3 linked regions of the Homo sapiens genome follow. The protein of the gene in region 1 interacts with the protein of each later gene in a pairwise test. Each region holds a gene or a part of one and is shown on either strand. Other genes may lie near its edges. The genes, in order: BACH2, CWF19L2 and ZNF774.

Evidence for each region.
Region 2: the proteins of BACH2 (region 1) and CWF19L2 interact in binary tests that used the Homo sapiens proteins (3 or more experiments, as listed by UniProt).
Region 3: the proteins of BACH2 (region 1) and ZNF774 interact in binary tests that used the Homo sapiens proteins (3 or more experiments, as listed by UniProt).

The regions. Positions count from the first base shown.
Region 1 is NC_000006.12:89,943,692-89,947,347, forward strand, and holds part of BACH2 (transcription regulator protein BACH2), read right to left. Parts: intron 1-3,656. UniProt on the Homo sapiens protein: Transcriptional regulator that acts as a repressor or activator. Binds to Maf recognition elements (MARE). Plays an important role in coordinating transcription activation and repression by MAFK.
Region 2 is NC_000011.10:107,426,807-107,430,462, forward strand, and holds part of CWF19L2 (CWF19-like protein 2), read right to left. Parts: intron 2,646-3,656; coding exon 1,993-2,645; intron 1-1,992.
Region 3 is NC_000015.10:90,355,199-90,358,854, reverse strand, and holds part of ZNF774 (zinc finger protein 774), read right to left. Parts: intron 5-3,656; coding exon 1-4.

The sequences.
Region 1 (3,656 bases):
GTAGCTGCAAATTTTGCAGAAAAAGCCAGAAACAAATATTTCCTGTAGAAATCTCAGTGGAAGACTAGTTTGTTAATATTTTTTCCTACTTCATTTCTTGGTTTTATTACCAGATGTTGATTGAAACCCATGGGAGTAGGGTCACATTAGCATGATACCCTGAGACACTGATGGTGTGGTCAGCTCTCCGAAGTCTTTAACGCCTGTACTCTGAGGAGACCCTCAGATCCCAGGGAGCTGTCGAGGGAGGAAGCAATATGCCCATTGGAGATGATTCCAGTGCTGCTGGAACCAGGACAGCCAGCTCAGTGCTGGGCAGATGGCAATGACAAAATCTCCCCTCCCAGGTGAAGAAATGTTTCTCGCGCAATTGTCCTTCCACGCCCTCTTCTCATGGTCCAGTTTCTAGCACAAATATGGGACACCTGGGATTCAGTTGTGATACGTCAATTAATTAGTTGTGTGATCTCAGGCAAGTCTTCATTCTGTCTGTCCCAAAGTTCTTGGAGGATCTAGGAGTCACAGGGCGATAACGCCTGCCCTACTTAGCTTACAGGGTTGCTATGAAGAATACAACTGGATGACAGGTGGAGAAAGTGCCTGGGAAAGTTTCAACTGCCTGATAGATACAAGGTATTATTATTTCTGTTTATTAGCCCTATCTATCTCTGTCACATGGTTTCGTCTTACAGACATGTGCTTTGGAATTCCAGACACTTACAATGTTCTAGACAACATAAAAACACTGTTTTAATTAGAAATATGGCTGATTTCTATGCTGCCCAGCAAGGTTTCTTTTTATTAAGCAGACCAATTACAGACACTTCTAAAAACTTGCCTGATTCACCAAACCACAAAAATGATTGTGAAAATTTTACATACAACATGTGTCTCAAAGTCAGCATTGGGGTGGGAAGAGTTAGAGTCAGATGGCTCTTCTATTCTGTACCATTTCCATGTTTTCTCTGGACTTTATCTCTCTCTTCCCTTCTCTCTCTCTCTCTCCCGCCCCCTGCCTGCCCCCAACACACTCTCTTACTCTCATACACTTTTATCTCTCTCAGTGTAAAACATGTTAATAAAGCAAGTCCAAAAATCCATACTTTTGACTGTGCAAAGAAACTCTCTGTGGTGCTTCTTTACTAAAATCTACAATTAAGTAGAAATGGTCCAGTTACAAAGCTGTCTTACTAAGAGGCTTACTACTTTGGAAAATGACTGTAATTTTCTATAATTTCCAACATCTAAAAACAAACCTATAAACCATAATGAGATAAACCATAACTACTCACACCCACTAGAGGGCACTAACAAAAAAGATGGGCAATAACAAGTGTTGGCGAGGATGCAGAGAAACTGGATCCTTGATACACTGCTGGTGGGAATTTGAAATGGTATAGCCACTTTGGAAACAGTCTAGTAGCTCCTCAAAAGGTTAAATACAAAGTTATATGATTTAGCAGTTCCACTCCTAGGAATATTATGGAAATAACTGAAAACATGTCTTAAAAACAACTTGTACTCAAATGCTCACAGCAGCATTATTTATAATAGCCCCAAAGTGGAAACAACCCACATGGCCCTCAACCAATGAACAACAAAATGTGGTATTAGTCAACAAAATGGATCAACATTATGGAATATTACTCAGGAATTAAAAGCAACAAAGTACTAATACATGACAATATACCTGGTGAGTACATCAATGGCAAGGGTAAACCTTCAAAGCATTATGCTAAAGTGAAAGGAGCTAGACACAGAAGGCCACATCTTGCAAGATTCTATTTATACAAATGCCCCAAACAAGTACATCTACAGAGATAGAAGGTAGATTACTGGTTGCCTGGGGCTGAGGGGAGTGGGCAATGAGGAGTAACTGCTAATAGGTACAGCATTTCCTTTTAGGGTGGTGAAAATGTTTTAGAATTACATAGTGGTGATGGTTGTACAACATTGTGGATATATCAACAACCACTGAATTGTTCATCTTAGTAGGGTGGATTTTATGATATGGGAATTATGTCTTAATTTAAAAAATAAACCTGTGCAAGATAGACATACATAAAATTCAAACATTACAGACATACATAGAAATGAAACTTTCCCTACACTCCTCTCCAACGGTGCTCCCAGTTTTTTCTTATTCTCTATGCTGATTTTATTTATATGGTGTGTATATTTAGGAAACAAACTAGGACCTTGTGCATACTGCTTTGTGATTTTCACTTATGTGACTTGTTCATTTTTTTTTACTGGAAGAGAAAAATTCCCAACCTGACTTCTTAAGGAATATAGCAAATCCAGAAGTCATAAAGAAAAAGACTTATACCTTGACTACATAAAACTAATATTTTTTTATATGGGAAAAGGTACAATAAATAAAGAAGCAGACTAAGGGAATATCTAAGCAACATTTATGAGAAAGGGTTAATATTCCTAATATTAGGGATTAAGATTCCTACATGTTGATTTAAAGTTAAACAATACAAAAGAAAAATAGGCAAAGAGGTAAACCAGCAATTCACAGGAAAGGAAATATAAATGTTCAATACACATAAAACAAGATGTCAGCCTCATTAGTAGTCACCATTTTTTTGCCCATCAAATTGGCAAAAATTAAAAAGACTGGTGACAACTAGTATGGGCAAGAATAGGGGAAATTGGACACTCTAAGTTGCTGATGAATATGTGAATTGCTACAACATTTTGGGTAGGTCATTAGGTAGTATTTAATAAATGGGCACAACCTTTAGCCCATCTTTGAAACTAACCCACAAAAATAAATGCACCACTACTAACAGTAGGGTCACAAAATGTTTATTGCAGCAATGTTTATCAGAGGGAAAAACTGAAAACAACTGAAATGTCTGGTGATAAGTGACAGCTGAATGAACTACGATTTACGAGAACGAGAGATATTGGAGAAACATGTCTTGGCCCTGTGTGATCGACCTACAGCCACGTGCATGGTAGACAGCTACGTGAAAAAAGGAAGCTGCTAACTCTACAACATAATGCCATTAAAATAAAACCCAAACCCATAGAGAGGTGAATATATATTTGTATATTGTTGTAGGCAAAGAGAAAGCCTGTTAAATTTGGTATGTTTGGGGCTGGGTATGCTGTGTTCTAGAATTTAAAAAAGAATGTCATTTTAAAAAGCTGATTATTGATAAAGGATAATACTGCGCTAATTTGATCTTTCTCGAAGCCAGGGAACAGTTAAAAAGGATGGGAGAAGCCAACGACTGTGAGATGGAAGGGCTGCTTAACACGGTATAACTACAACATCTTACAGAATACAAGGTATGTTAACACTTCACTTTTGGTCTAACGTTTTGGCTCCCTACGGGGTGGAGGAAGACAGATTGGGAAAACACACGCGAAGTATTACACTGGCGTCTGGCAAGGGGTGGAAACTCCTGTCTTGATTTCTGACTCTGGTGTCTCCGTGGGGTTCACTTGAAAGAGAAGGCACCTGGATCCCATATGAAAGCAGGGCAGGGCAGAATTAGCCCAATAGATGCTGGCTTCTTCTGGATCAGTTCAGGAAAACAAGTTTTGACTTGTGGAGAAGGATCTGCCTTGAGCACTATTACTGGGGATAATACTTCAACCAGGGTCAAAGTAACTCCCTAAAGCAGGTTATCAACTCC
Region 2 (3,656 bases), on another chromosome or scaffold:
TATATATATTACACATTTTCAAATACACTAAAAAATTTGGAAAGACACTACCAACACTGTTAACCTGGCAAATAGGATTAGGGTTGGAAGTGACATGAAAGGGAGATTTACTTTTTCATTTTATACTCACCTATGCTTCATATTCTTGTTTTATACTCTTCTGTCTATATTGTTTAAATTTTATACATATACATTTATTAAGATTACAAATGGCATGTTCTAAAAAATAATACTGGTGTAAATAACAAGAAAGGTAAAGATATATGAACAATACATACAAAGAAGTAAAAACTAATTCAACTAATTTTTCCAATCATGACCATTCACTTATAAGACAAAGATTATTTGTAACAACTAGGCATTCTTCAAGGTCCTGTCTTGGTCTCCTACTTTACAACCACTCTACATTCTCAGGAATCTTTTTTTTTGGATGATTCCTAGATTTTTCTTTCCCTCTCCAGCCAGTCACAGAATTCATAGAAAGCCTCAAACCCTCTGTACCATCAAATTAACACAGCGAACAAAGAATACTGTCTTCAAAGGAAAAATTACATGTATACATACATATATATACACACATATATAGCTTTTAGTGAGTGCTGTCTTCAAACCGAAAAATTATATACATACACAGCTTTTAGTGAGTGCCTGTATTATAGTGTATCTATCAGAAGCTTACAACTTAAATAAGACATACAAATATGCAGCAATCAGACAACCGGTTGGAATACTAATCGTGTGGTATTACTTTGCAGACATTTTGCTTAGCTACAGTCACAGAAGAAGGCCTACAGATCATCCAAATGCTAACCCAATCCTAATGATATCAGGAAATAAGAGCCTCATTCCCCTAGTGACTGGGAACTGGAAATAGTCTACCACCCAGGGCACCTGGAGTGAAGACTGGACAATTACATATGCATACAGCCTTAGACAATAATCCCTGCCATGTTTGTTTAGTCAATACAATTGGATTTCTCCTTCCACTTCCTGGGAGGAAAGCCCTGATGTGAACCAGAGTCCATTTGACTGGGGCTTAATCACTCAGTTCAGATTTTGCCAGCTCCCTCCCACCGAAAATTACACACTGAGTTTTATAATCCACTGCTTCAGATGGAGTCATTAACAAAAGTGATTTATCAGACTCACAACCCCAAACCACAGTGCTTTTATCTACTACAACCATGTGTTTCTATTATTTCCTAAAACCTCTTCCTTTAGTGTCCCACTCATTTGGTGCTATTTTTAAACATATTTTAATGATCATTCACGTGTAAGTTGTTACCCTTTGGACACTTTTTTTTCTGGCTATCTCCAACAGGGCCAGCAAATTTCTAAAGCAAATTTTCTTAGGTTTAGTCCCATTCAACCTGGGTTTCCTCATCTTCTAACCCAGCCCTACATAAATGCAACATATATTTTATATTTAAAACTCTAATATTATCTTTAAAATCTGTCAATTGCCCAAAGTGGATTATTTCTTTCTTTGTGCAAAATAACAACCATAATTCATGCTCCCCTCTGCAAGATCTCTGGCATGTATTTGTCACTTTATATTTGGGCCGTGGCAGCGTGTTTTCCTTTTGTCTCCTAGACTTCCTATAGACATGCAGTATTTATGATTATGATTATACTCAACAATAAGATAATTTCCTTAGAAAGTAATGGCATTGGTAACAAAATCTACCAAAATATCTCCTGCAGCACATACATTTAAAACATTAACTCATTCAGTTTTTTAAATTGCAAAGCAGCAACATATTTTGAACAAATATAGCTACTGCTTTCAGCTCTTAAAAAAAAAAAAACCTATGAAATAAAATGCAATCCATACCACAATACTGCCTGTTAAATCTGCATATCTTACCCCTTCTATCAATTTTAAGAAATGTGAGATCATAGTCACAGCTAATAACTGATGTTCTAAAAATACAGTTCTGTTCTTTGAACTCTCTGGATCTTAACTTATTAGGTTAAAAAATGATAAAATACCCAGCAAATGTAGACTTTGTATCCCGTAGATGTTCTTTTTTTGGAGGGTCATCTCTCAAGACTTCATCTTGTGATTTTTCTCTTGGGTCTTCTGGAACATGTTGGTGTTCATCAGTACTGGTTTCCGATGGCTTTTGATTTGAATGTTTCTTGTCTCCTCTCCCATCAGAGCGACTCCATGATGTTAATCTTTCTTCACTGTTCTTGGTGGGTTTTCTAAAACCACTACACAAAGAGCCCTGAGCTACCAATGCTGAAGATGAACTAAGTGGTTCAAATTTTCTGCCCTTGCTGTGAAATGACAGTTCTTCATCATCAGAGGGTCTCAAGAATTTAGCTCTCAAATTGCCAAAAGAAAACTCTTGATTTTGCCTTGGGTTAGATTCTCTTCTACACGTTTCTAAAGACCCAGGTCTCTTATCTTTTTCATCACCAATAAATTTTTCATTATTGCTATTTTTTGCAGTATCTGTTGTAGCATATCTATCCCTTGAACTGTTACCATATTTTACTAAGTCTGATTCTCTACTTTCTTGACAATTTTGTGCTTTATCTGAATATGTGGGTTTCCTCCACCGTTCCCGTCTATAATCTTCTTTCGTGGATGCAGCTTTTTCAGCATCTTCTAATTTTGACTGAAATATTTCCATTGACTACAAAGGAGAAAAATTAAACAAGATATCTAAAATTAGGAACGGCTCAGTGACTTGCACCCCACATGTCACTGTATGACTCACTGCCAAGTGGCACACTGAAAAGCCCACTAACGGGGTGAAAGAAGACCCATACAATCATCCTATACGGAAACGAATACTTTCTAAAAATGTGTAAACAATTAAAAATTATTAAATAACAAAAAGATTCCAAAAGGATAGCCAGTTACACCAAACACTCTGCACTAACACAAAGTATAACACAGAAAACAGTAGAGACAAACTTTGCAAAAAATACTTAATTCCTACTGGTTGTGAGATTCAAGAGGTTAAATTGCTAAAACAGATTCTCACCAAAAAAAAAAAAAAAAACAGAATAGTTCAAGAACAAGAAAGACTTGGAAATAAAAAATTGTGTGTCCCAAAAAGCTGCCAAGATACACCAAAAGGAAGAAAAGACAGTGCTGAAAACTAAATTAACCTGGGAATTCTCTATATTTTAGGAAAAGGTAGTAAATAAATGTAAGTTATAAGAAAAAAAGATACATGAACAATTGATTCTAGAAAATCTAATATGCATTTATTAGTACTTCCAGAAAGATGGAGCAAAGATGATGGGAATAGAGCATTAATTTTAAAAATATATAAGAAAATTTCCCCAGCCGATTTCTCAGAAGGACTCATCCAATAGCCTTGGGTGGGGGAGAAAGAAGAAAAACACAGAAAAAAACCCTAATACCTGAATCTCAAAACTCAAGGAAAAAAAAAAAAACCTTTACAAGGACTAGATCAGGGAAGGAGTGAATAAGTGTGAGCCTGTATATGGATAGGGGTAGATAAATAACAAATTATCCACAAAGGAAAGACAGACTTACAGCTGTTCATCCATAATAATAAGTAAATAATAGAATGAAGATTAAATTTTGAAAACAAAATTAAGCTATAATTCTATATAGAGAATTCAATTCACAGTCAAATTATCCTTCCTTGGTATGGGCCAAAGAAAATCAT
Region 3 (3,656 bases), on another chromosome or scaffold:
AATTCTACACAGGAATGTAAACATAGGATGTGAGTCTGAGCCAATCACACAAGGCCTGAGCAAAATCCAAGCCCTACTCCCTGCCTAGGTATGGAAGAACACCTGGGGAGCTCTAACGTGTATTTGGTGTCATTAAAAAAGTGCAGCCATGGTACAGTGATAAAACACGGTGATTTCCCCAAAATGTTAAGAAAAAAAAGCCCTTTTCCTCCCATAAAGAAAAAAAACCAGACTCAGGTGACAGAAACTCTGAAGTAAATACAATAACCATTTCTGAAGGTACAAGGCTAAAGCTAAATATGGAGAGGATTTTATCAGAAACCAAGCCTCCATGACCTCACCCTTAGAAACAATGAAGGAAGTTAACTATAATGTTGGGCTTTAAAATTTTCCCAGAATGGCAGCAGTCAAAAAAGCCATGAGAAAAAGACAAACAGTTGTTAAGTAGCCTGTAAATATACGAAAAATGTTTAACCTCACTATAATCAAAGAAATTCCATTATAACAATGATACACTGAGGCAATATAGTGTAGAGGTAATGAGTGCAAACTCAAGAGTCACACTGCCTGGGTCTGAGTCATCATCCTGCCTCTTACAAGCTGTGTGGCCTTAAGAAAGTTACTTAAACTCTGTGTCTCAATGTCTTCATCAATAAAATAGGGATAAGAGGCCAGGCTCAGTGGCTCACACCTATAATCCCAGAACTTTGGGAGGCCGAGGCAGGCGGATTACGAGGTCAGGAGTTTGAGACCAGCCTGGCCAACATAGTGAAACCCCGTCTCTACTAAAAATTAGCCGGGCATGGTGGCACAGGCCTGTAGTCCCAGTTACTCGGGAGGCTGAGGCAGGAGAATCGCTTGAACCCAGGAGGCAGAGGTTATGGTGAATCGAGGTCACACCACTGCACTCCAGCCTGGACGACAGAGAGAGACTCCATCTCAAAAAAAAAAAAAAAAATTGGGATAAGAATAAGATCCATTGGCCAGGTGCAGTAGCTCACACCTGTAATCCCAGCACTTTGGGAGACCAAGGCAGTTGGATCACTTGTGAGGCCAGGAGTTTAAGAGCAGCCTGTCCAACATGGAGAAATCCTGTCTCTACTAAAAATACAAAAATTAGCCACGTGTGGTGGTGCACACCTGTAATCCCAGCTACTTGGGAGGCTGAGGCATGGGAATTGCTTGAGCCTGGGAGGCGGACGTTGCAGTGAGCTGAGATTGCACCACTGCATTCCAGCCTGGGCAACACATTGAGACTCCATCTCCAAAAAAAACTTCAATAAATGTTAACTATTATTGCTATTTTTCCCAGACTCTTTTTTTGTGTTTTGTGTGTGTGTTTGTTTGTTTTTGAGACAGGCTCTTGCTCTGTCACCCAGGCTGGAGAGCACTGGTACAATCACAGTTAACTGCATCCTCGAGCTCCTGGCTCAAGCGATTCTCTCACCTCAGCCTCCCAAGTAGCTGGGACCAGAGGCACAAGCCCCTACACCTGGTTAATGTAACTTTTTGTAGAGACAGGGTCTCATTATGTTGCCCAGGCTGGTCTGGAACTCCAGAGCTCAAGTGGTCCTCCTGCCTCAGCCTCCCAAAATGCTGGGATTATAGACATGAGCTGCCACACCCAGGCCCAGACTCTTTAAATTATAATACCCACTGTGAAAGGTAGAATATAAAGAAATGCGCACTTTCATATAATGTTTGTGGGAATAAATCAATTGATTCAATCTTCTTGGAAGGCATTTTGCAAAGTATTAAATACCTTAGAAATGTATCTGTTCTTTGACCCACCAATTCTAATTCTGAGAATTCTAAGAAAATGATAAAATTATACTTCAATAAAAAATACTTTTTAAAAAACGAGCTAAAAGATGTTTATCACAACCTGGTGAAAGTTTAGAAATGACCTAAATGTCCCACAACAAAGGAATAATTATATAGCTCACTGCAGCCTCGAACTCCTGTGCTGAAGGGATCCTCCTGCCTCAGCCTCCCAAGTAGCTCAGGCAATTGCTATTTTTATAGGTTAAAAAAAGGTCAGATATATGGTTCAATCTAATGTTTGACTTCATCAACAAAATAATATTGTATTCCATAAAACAAAATACTAGGTGGTTATTTTAAGTGATGTAAAGAAAGATATACTCACAATACAACATGGAAGAAAGAATGTACAGCTGAATATACAGCATAATCCCAATATTATTCTTTTGTGCTTCTTTTAAAATTGTATATATGCTTAGAAAAATGCTGGTAGGATAGTAACTCTTCATTGGTGGGATTAGGGATGATGTTTGTTTTCATTTTGCTTGACTTTTTATTGAATGAGTATACATTACTTGTATAATAGATGAAGTAGGCCAGGCGCAGTGGCTCACACCTCTAATCTCAGCACTTTGGGAGGCCAAGGCCAGCGGATCACTTGAGGTCAGGAGTTCAAGACCAGCCTGGCCAACATGGTGAAACCTCGACTCCACTAAAAATACAAAAATTAGAGCTGGGCCCACTCCTATAATCCCAGCACTTTGGGAGGCCGAAGTGAGCGGATCACTTGAGGTCAGTAGTTTGAGACCAGCCTGACCACATGGAGATAACCCATCTCTACTAAAAATACAAAAAATTATCCAGGAATCGCTTGAACCTAGGAGGCAGAGGTTGCAGTGAGCCGAGATCATGCCATGGCACTCCAGCCTGGGCGACACAGCGAGACTCTGCCACAAAAAAAAAAAAAGAAAGAAAGAAGTAAAGCAGGAGGAAGGGTAGCCATGATATTTGAGAAAGAGCATTGGAGGTGTTTTTGGTTTTTTTTATTTATTTTTTTTTTTTTGAGATGGAGTCTTGCTCTGTCGCCCAGGATGGAGTGCAGTGGCATGATCTTGGCTCACTGCAAGCTCCGCCTCCCAGTTCACGCTGTTCTCCTGCCTCAGCCTCCCGAGTAGCTGGGACTACAGGTGCCCACCACCATGCCTGGCTAATTTTTTGTATTTTTAGTAAGACGGGGTTTCACCATGTTAGCCAGGATGGTCTCGATCTCCTGACCTTGTGATCTCCCTGCCTTGGCCTCCCAAAGTGCTGGGATTACAGGCATGAGCCACCGCGCCCAGCCTTGTTTTTTTTTTTTTTTTTTTTTTTGAGACAGAGTCTTGCTCTATTGCCCAGGCTGGAGTGCAATGGCGTGGTCTCAGCTCACTGCAACCTCCACCTCCCAGGTTCAAGCAATTCTCCTGCCTCAACCTCCAAAGTAGCTGGGATTACAGGCGCCCGCTATCACACCCAGCTAATTTTTTTATTTTTAGTAGAGACAGGGTTTCATCATGTTGGCCAGGCTGGTCTCGAACTCCTGACCTTATGATCCGCCCACCTCAGCCTACCAAAGTGCTGGGATTACAGGCGTGAGCCACTGCCCCCAGCCTGTTTTTAAGTGACAGAAAAAATTACCTCCTTTTCCACAAAGACCTCAGAAGTCTCAGAAGTTAAGTGGCAGAGGTGAGAGTCCAACCCAGGCTGGAAAAGGGGGATAGTAATACATAAGTCAAAAAGTTATGATGAGATATTAAAAGGACAATAAATAGCAAAGACATTTGCAAACCATAAAATGCATAAGGAAGTAATTGTTTTTCTCCCAAGGAGGCAACAATTAATCTTACAGAGGTCTG